Linked DNA regions of Homo sapiens: region 1 is linked to region 2. The links come from fine-mapping of genetic effects on plasma protein levels. Region 2 holds a variant in brackets. A gene starts in the other region. All regions are shown on their reverse strands.

Region 1 (2,601 bases), not on the chromosome of region 2:
TGTTTACATATCTACAAGAGGGGCTGGAACATTCTATTAAGTGCTCAACATTTCACCTTGTCAGTGAGGCTGGCCCTGGCCACCCTAGCCACTGCCCACTGCCTAGTGCCCATCCCAGTCCTGCCAAGTACTTATCCTACTGGATTTTTTCTTCCCTTAATGTTTTTTCATAGCATTTATGACTTTTGAATAGAGTATACTACGGTTCCCACCTTTTGCACTATGGACATTAGGAGTCAGATCATTCTTTGCTATGGGGGATGTCTTAGGCATTGTAGGGCTTTGCGCAGCATCCCTGGCCTCTACCCACTAGATGCCTGGAGCACACACACACACACACACACACACACACACACATTCTGTGACAACCAAAAGTGTCTCCAGACATAGCCAAATGTCCCCTGGTGGGCGTAATTGCCCCCAGCTGGGAACTACTATGCTATACAACTTATGTTTTCAATTATGTTTATTACGTTGAGTATGGAGTCTGTCTCCCCACACTTCTAGAATATTAGCTCCAAGAAGAGAGGAATTTGCTTATTTTACTCTCTGATGTGGCCCCAGTTCCAAGATCAATGCCTGGCATATGGCAGGTGCTCAATGTTTGTTGAAAGAATGCATGAACACTGAGTGTTTTTGATATGCCTGAAATGGTGCTAGGTAGACATGTATAACCTCATTGTCTTTATTTTTTTATTTTTTCAATTTTTGTTTTCATATATATATATATATATATATTTTTTTTTTTTTTTCAGAAATGAGGGTCTTGTTATATTGCCCAGGCTGGTCTGGTCTGGAACTCCTGGGCTCAGTGATCCTTCCATGTCGGCCTCCCAAAGTGCTGGGATTACAGGTGTGAGCCAGCAAGACTGTCTTGTTTCTTTATCATAGCATCTTTGTGAGAGAGGCCCATCGCTATCTCCTTTACAGTGGGGAAAACTAAGGCTTCTAGAAGCTACCTAGAACCCATACAGTGGTAGAGTCCTGCAGCTCCGCCGGCTACCTCCCTAACAAAACTGTTTGTTCCCTTCTGGTACAGAGGGACTGGATCAAGGTCAGGTTCAAACCCAGCCTCTGCAGGCACCTGCAGGGGAGTTGAGAAGGGACCTGAACTGGCCTGGGGGGCTATGCCTGAGGGGGCTTTCTCAGGAGCCAGCAGGGGTTACAATTTGGTCGGGTTCAGTGTGTCCCTCGCGGGATAAAACCCAGCCCCAGGCCCATAAGAGATGGTGACTAAGCTCCAAAGAGAAGCCTCCAGCCCCAGGCCCATAAGAGATGGTGACTAAGCTCCAAAGAGAAGCCTCCAGCACCAGCCTGGGGATGGAGCTGCAGTGGCCAGAACCAGGAGGCTGGAACCGCCCGGCCTCACTCCAGCCCAGCCCAGCCCAGCCTTGAAAGGGCCCAATCCTGTGATTGGTCCATGGGTTCCCGTTGCCAGGAATTAAGGCCAAGAAAATGGGAAGGAAGGAAGGGAGTGCGTAGGTCCAGTGAGAACAGGCGTGAAATTTATATCTCTGCCCAGGACTGGGTGCCTGCATCGCCATGGACACCACCAGGTACAGCAAGTGGGGCGGCAGCTCCGAGGAGGTCCCCGGAGGTATGAGCAAGGAGACTGCCCCATCCCTGCCCCAGTGTCTGGGGTTTGATGGGGGAGGGGAGGGAAGAGTCGAGACAGGCCAGGGTTGTGGGTGCAGGAGAGACACCACAGGCCATAGAGCCAGTTGGACCAGGGTCCAATTCCAACTCTGCCGCTTAGAAGCTGTGTGACCATAGGCAAGTTACTTAACTTCTCTGAATCTCAGTTTCCTGGGAGTAACTCAGGCCTCCAGGGCTCAGTTCTGGGGGACCCAGCATGCCGTCCTTGTTATGCCAGGGCCCTGGGGACGCTGGGTGCACTGGAGCAGGAGACCCCTCTTCTTGGCCCTGGCTGTCCTGGTCACCACAGTCCTTTGGGCTGTGATTCTGAGTATCCTATTGTCCAAGGGTGAGTGACTCTCAATGGGGAGGTGTTGCATCCGGCCCCCCTGGGGACAGAAAACCCCCACTGCATGGCGCACCAGCTGCATCCTGGGGTCCTGTTCGCGTCTGAGTGTGAGCAGAGTGTGTGTACATCTTTGGGCCGTGTGCACTCACGCGTGTGCACATGGCGTGCTCGTATGTGCGCGAGTCCCCGCGCGTTTGTCTCCCATCGGCGTGTGTGCACATCGTGTGAGCTGTATGCCTGCCCGCCCGCTCCGTGCTCCCGAGTTGGGGGACGCTGCACCCCCCGGGCGAGGGGAGGATTCCCGAGTTCCCGGCCTCGCCTGCAGGAGCCTCTCTCCTCAGCCTCCACGGAGCGCGCGGCGCTGCTTGACGGCCACGACCTGCTGAGGACAAACGGTGTGTGCAGAGCCGGGCGCCTGGGCCCCCGGGGCGTGAGGGGCGGGAGTTTCTGAGACCCCGGAGATGGAGTCTCGAGTGCGTGGGGGCCCTATGGTCCCTGAGGCTGGAAGGGGGTCCCCTGAGTCCTCCCAAGTGACCCGAGGGGCATGCATTTTGGGGCGGGGGTCGTTCCAGCCTCGAAGCAGACGGCGGCGCTGGGTGCCCTGAAGGAGGAGGTCG
Region 2 (5,542 bases):
AAGGCTGAGGCAGGAGGATTGCTTGAGCCCAGGAGTTTGGAGGCAGCAGTGAGCTATGATTGGGCCACTGCATTCCAGCCTGGGTGACACAGCTAAATAAATAAATAAATATTTAAATAAATAAATTTATTTATTTATTTATTTAAATAAATAAATAAAATTGGTATAGAACTATAAAAATCTCCCTGACTTCTGTCTCATCTTCTGAGTTTTCTGAAGGTGGGAATCTTTGAGAATGAAGGTGAAAGTATTTACTTCTCAGAACTAGAGTATCCACTTTTATTTCTGGGTTATTATTCTCGTAATAAAATTAAAGAGTAAAAAAAATACATACGAATTGATAGAAAAAATAAGATCTTAATTGCTAGAAGATAAAATATAACATTGGGATTAATATGTTTTATTGGGGGTTCTCATCATGATTATCCTTCCCCAGACTGGTCTGATCCAGAGTGGAGGCAACGTGGTCATGGCTGGTTTATGCCTGAGTTAATGTGCTAATCAGACTGTGCACTTCCTAGGAGATGTTTAATTGTGACATGTCATGAGTTTTGGAATCTTAAAATTAGCTAAGAGGAAAAAAAAATCTATTGAGAGAAGCCAAAATGAACACCGAAACAAGCAAACCAACAAACCAAACAATAGCCTGCTCCACTCCCCCATGGCAACCTTTTAAATAAGTCACTTCATTGATTGCTTAAGATTAAATCCATTTTCATTTATTTATTTTCAAGAATGGAAAATGTAGTTGCCTGAACTTTATAGAAATTAGTAACAGGTTGTGTTCAACTCTCAGAAATGTAGTTTTCTTTTCTTTTTTTGGAAATATTGGAGCAGTTTAACTCAAAACACCATTTATAGGAGCTCTTGAATTCATGTTTACCTGTTTTGAGTTGCGTTTTTTACATTTTAATAATTAAAGAATATCATGTAATTCCCATAAACATTTTAACTTGAAAAGAGAATGATTTTATGATATCAGATTCAATGTGTCTTAGTTATATATATATATTCAATGTGTCTTAGTTATATATATTATATTTTTCCCTCCAAACTATTCAATTTCAAACTAGTTATTCACATGGTGTCAGGATAAGATTTTAATTTTTATTTTGCTTTTATTCACAAATATTGTTTTAGATCTGCTGCATGATCTTGAAGCTTTTTTTAAACTTTTATTGAAATATCTATGCTCTTGAGCATTCAGATTCTTTCTAGTGAAACACTGGGATTATCTTTCTTTAGTCAATCATTATCCATTAGAAACATTAACTAATTTACCCTCTCAAGAGTCCTAGAAGTTATATCATAACATTTTACAGAGACAGAAATCTGATGTCATGTGAATTTCTTAAGGTCAGAGACTGGAGTCTCTGGACAAATGGATCTAGGATTTTAAGTCAATGTTAGTTTCACAGCTGGCCTGGGCAGCTTTAATTCTGCTGAGAATGAATATATGATCCCTGTTACTTTCAGAAGAGATTTGGTCATTAAATCCTAATTATACAGACTGTAAAATCACTAGCTAGAGTTGCTCAGGCACATGTTATGATAACAATTCAGGGGACATTTTTAGATGAGTGTTATTTTGCTTATTTGTTTTTATTCTTAACATTCTGTTATTTAGACACAATTTTCTTGTTTATTGATGGGTGAAATGGGTTATATTTCTTTGATGAAATTATATTCTTTATCTATTTACAATAGACACTGATTCATAGAGTTTTAGACTTGGAAGGAAACTTTGATATCTTTACTTAACTTTTCATTTTCCGAAATGGAAAAATGAGATTGAGGTGATTTGTTCACTATCACCTACTGAATTAGTGACTTGGTCACTATTTAGTCTATTGTTCTCCTTAGTCCAATATTAGCCACTATAATGAACAGCTGTATGAACACACGCAAGAACATTTTAAACCCCACACTGTATGGACTACTAGCTTTACATTTTAGGTGAAATGATACTTTAAAATGTCTAGCAATTTAAGAAGCTAGCGAAAATGATTGATTTACTCTCAAAATAAAATATATTTTTAGTATTATAGTTGTTTGAGACTTGCCAATAAATTGTGAAGGAATTATGAGCATTTTTATTTAAATTTATTCTGATTTCACAATACTTTTCAGAATTCTAAGGCTCAATATTTAACCTCGTTGTGATATATAGCTAAATGCTAACTGCATAATTCTCCTTTATCAATATCATCCCAAACAGCATAGAATTGGAAGTTAGAATGAATCTCAAAGATAGTCAAATCTTTATTTTTTAATAAATGATATGAATAATATCAATAACAGATTGTGCTCAGTGATAACTGGCTAATACTAGACTTTAGTCTAAGAGCTTTGCACTGATTAATTTATTTAATTCTCTCATCCATAGTATGGAAGGCATGATTTCAAGTTTTTGTTTTGTAGCTGAGAAACTGAGTTAGAGGGGTTCTATAACTTGCTAGTGAGGGACAGAAGCAGGACTCAAGCCCAAAGATCCTGGTTCCAGAACTTGTATTCTTGTTTTATAAAATTTTAATTGACAAATGCCAATTGTATTTATTGTGTACCACATTATATTTTGAAATATGTGTATATTGTGAAATGGCTAAGTCAAGATAATTACCATGTATATTACCTTACATGCTTATCTTTTTTTGTGATAAAAGCAGAAAATCTACTGTCTTAGCAATTTTCAAGAATAAATTGTTATAAACTATAGTCACCATGTTGTACAATAGATCTCTTGAACTTATTCTTCCTGTCTATCTGAAATTTTGTATCCTTTGAATAACAGCTACCCAACCCCCTCCCACCCCCACCAGCACCTGGTAACTACCATTCTACTCTCTACTTCTGTAAATTCGGTTACATTCTTTCTTAGATGACACATATAAGTAACATTATGTGGTATTTGTCTTCCTGTGCCTGGCTTATTTTACTTAACTTGATGTCCTTCAGGTCTCCTTTCATGTTGTCACAAATGGCAGGATTTCCTTCTTTTTTGTAAAGCTGAGTAGTATCCTATTATGTATACATACCATGTTTTCTTTATGCATTTATCTGTTGACCAAATTTGTATTCTGAGCCATTGTGCTCTGTTGTTTCTTTGCAACATTAATATTAGGTTGAATCATATAGATTGGTAGATCAGAAACAGTCAAA[A/T]ATCAGCCATTTTATATGGCTCAACCTAATAGCAACTGTTACCATTTATTGATTATATATGACGTGTCAGACACAGTTCTTGGCCCCTTTTATAATCTCATTTAATCCTTATATTTAATTGAATCCTTGTAACAACAGTAGAATATAGGAATTATTGATTTTTACAGAATTAAGAAGCTTAGATTAGGAACTATTTGCTTTTTACAGAATTGAGAAACTGAGATTCTGAGTGGTTCGGTAACTTTCTGAGTAGTTAGGTTACATAGCTGACTAGTAGAGAAGCCCAGGTTGAGCCCACACCTGTCTGAAACTGAACACCATGCTCTCAATCACTCTGCTTTCCAGGTGAGGTTCTGAAACAGATAGTGTTAGAACCTGCAATTCTCTACTGTTGTCTAAGGTCCTTATACATTTTGCCATGGTGGTGCTGAATATACTGTTTGTGTTTCCCTCTGTTTGCTGTTTGCATGTTAGTGTGCTTTTTGTATCTGTTAAGAAGTATTTGATCAGAAGTAAATTCAAGCATATATGCATTATTCTTATATATGAGGTGGACTTGTATAACTAATACCTACTCTGTTAGTTTGCTAGGGCTGCCATAACAAAGTACCACAGACTGGGTGGTTTAAAGGAAAGAAATTTCTTCATAGTTCTAGAAACTAGAAGTCCAAGATGAAGGTGTCAGCAGGGTTGGTTTCTTCTGAGGGCCTCTCTCCTTGACTTATAGAGGGCTTTCTTCTTCCAATGTCTTTGTATGGCCTTCCTTCTGTGTGTATGTCTTAATTTCTTCTTATAAGGGCACCAGTCATATTGGATTAGGGCCCATCCCAATGACCTCATTTAACCTTAATTACCCCTTTAAAGATTGTGTCCAAATATAGTTACATTGTGAGTTAAATTCAACTTGGTACAAATACCAACTTTGTCAGTCTTCCTCTGGAAGCTAAGCATGCATTTTGAGAAATTAATTTGAAGTTAATGTATTTTTTTTTCTCCTTAATTGTAGAAGCCCAGCTGAGCACTAGCATTCCAGAATGACATGGCAAAAGGGTCCTTCCCAGGCCTTTTTAGGAAGGTATTGTAATGTTCCTCCTTAGAGGTTTGTCGAGCTTTATTCTTAGCCCTACCCTACAACTATTTTAAACATGCTCTTACACAACCCTTTATTCCCTCCATTACCTCAAAGAAGAAAATCAGATAAATTAGCACCTCTGAGGAGTAGCATCAATATTTTATTTTGATTTTTTAGATCTTGGCATCAAGAGTATGAATTCAGGGAACTGACTCCCAGAAAAGGAAGTAGGGAATATTGAGGAACTACTTTACCTTGCACACCACTGAGGCCAATAATAGTAGCAGTCGTCGTAGCCCTAGTCCTAGTCATAGTTGTATATACTTTCTTCTGGGCAATGCTCAGCCTGGAGGGAGAGGAGCCTGTAGAACTGTGGACTGTTCTAGTCCATTTACCCTGTTTGATGGATGAATTTCATATAGTTAAATGCTTTCTTTATGGACTCAGTGCAAAGCTGAATGTGGAATGTAGGTCCTCTAACTCCTGGTCAGTGTTTCTTCATGTCTATCATGCTAAGCATTGTGTTTATCATAAAACTGATTTTAAAATTGCCTAAGTAATTCTGGAGAGAAAAATAATTATAATTTCTTACTGAAAAGGTCATGGGCTTTGGAGCCATATGGATATGAATTTCAATTGTGGTTAAGCATTTCTCTCCCTTTGTGATTTTGATATACTATTCTCTCAGCCTAGGTGTAAACCCTACTCATAAAATAGGGCTTAAGCCCTACTCTTAGTTTAGATGGAAGGACAACATGAGAAAATGCAGGTGAAGTGCTTAGCACTTGGTACATAGGCATTCAGCAAATTGATAACTATTACTATAAATATTAAATAATGGTAATTAGTATTAATGGCATCAATATTATGAATAGAACCAAATGGTAATATTGTATTGTGTATATATATATACACACACACATATATATATAACATATATATGTTAAAAAGAATTCAGAGACATAAAGATGGAAGGGATTTGCTGAGCATACAGATGCTGAGCATATGAGATGACACCTAGGACAGAGATTTACCCTTTGATCTATTATTTCAGTGCTCACAAGGGTGCTTAATAAATGGCTGTTTGATGATGAGGTTGTATGTTTGCTCGTCAGTAGGAACATGTTACCTTCAGTCCTTTGGTTGACCTTTGGCTGCCTCCCTGATCCTCTGGAGAGAGGAAGGCTATTTACTGCTATTTGCTATTGGCAAAAAGTTTGTGGCAATTTGGCTATGATTCTTGGGTGGAATTTTAGTTTGAGGTGGAACATATTTCATTCAACAAAACATTACTTAATACTTTTTATTAAT

Direction of the effects. Positions count from the first base shown, and alleles are read on the strand shown. Strength reflects both the effect of a copy and how common the allele is.
For the plasma level of the protein whose gene starts at base 1,535 in region 1, allele A in region 2 goes with a lower level than allele T (weak association).

The links. PIP is the chance, under the fine-mapping model, that this variant and not a neighbour inherited with it causes the effect. The UK Biobank Pharma Proteomics Project read protein levels with antibody pairs (Olink). The fine-mapping took linkage between variants from a reference panel, not from the people measured, so its PIPs are less certain.
Region 1: it holds the start of CLEC4G, and the variant in region 2 is fine-mapped to the plasma level of the CLEC4G protein (UK Biobank, PIP 0.99).

What each region holds. Positions count from the first base shown.
Region 1 is chr19:7,731,044-7,733,644 of GRCh38, reverse strand. CLEC4G (C-type lectin domain family 4 member G) reads left to right here and starts at 1,535. Exons shown (of 9, transcript NM_198492.4): 1 at 1,535-1,597; 2 at 1,874-1,984; 3 at 2,326-2,379; 4 at 2,557-2,601. The coding sequence starts at 1,543. RefSeq lists a cis regulatory region at 1,461-1,470 and promoters at 1,277-1,540, 1,228-1,540, 934-1,540.
Region 2 is chr11:89,480,875-89,486,416 of GRCh38, reverse strand. The region is part of intron 2 of NOX4 (NADPH oxidase 4); the gene reads left to right. Among named protein-coding and RNA genes, the nearest start is that of NOX4, 7.7 kb to the left of the region's middle. The variant A/T (reference allele first, on the strand shown) is at 3,160.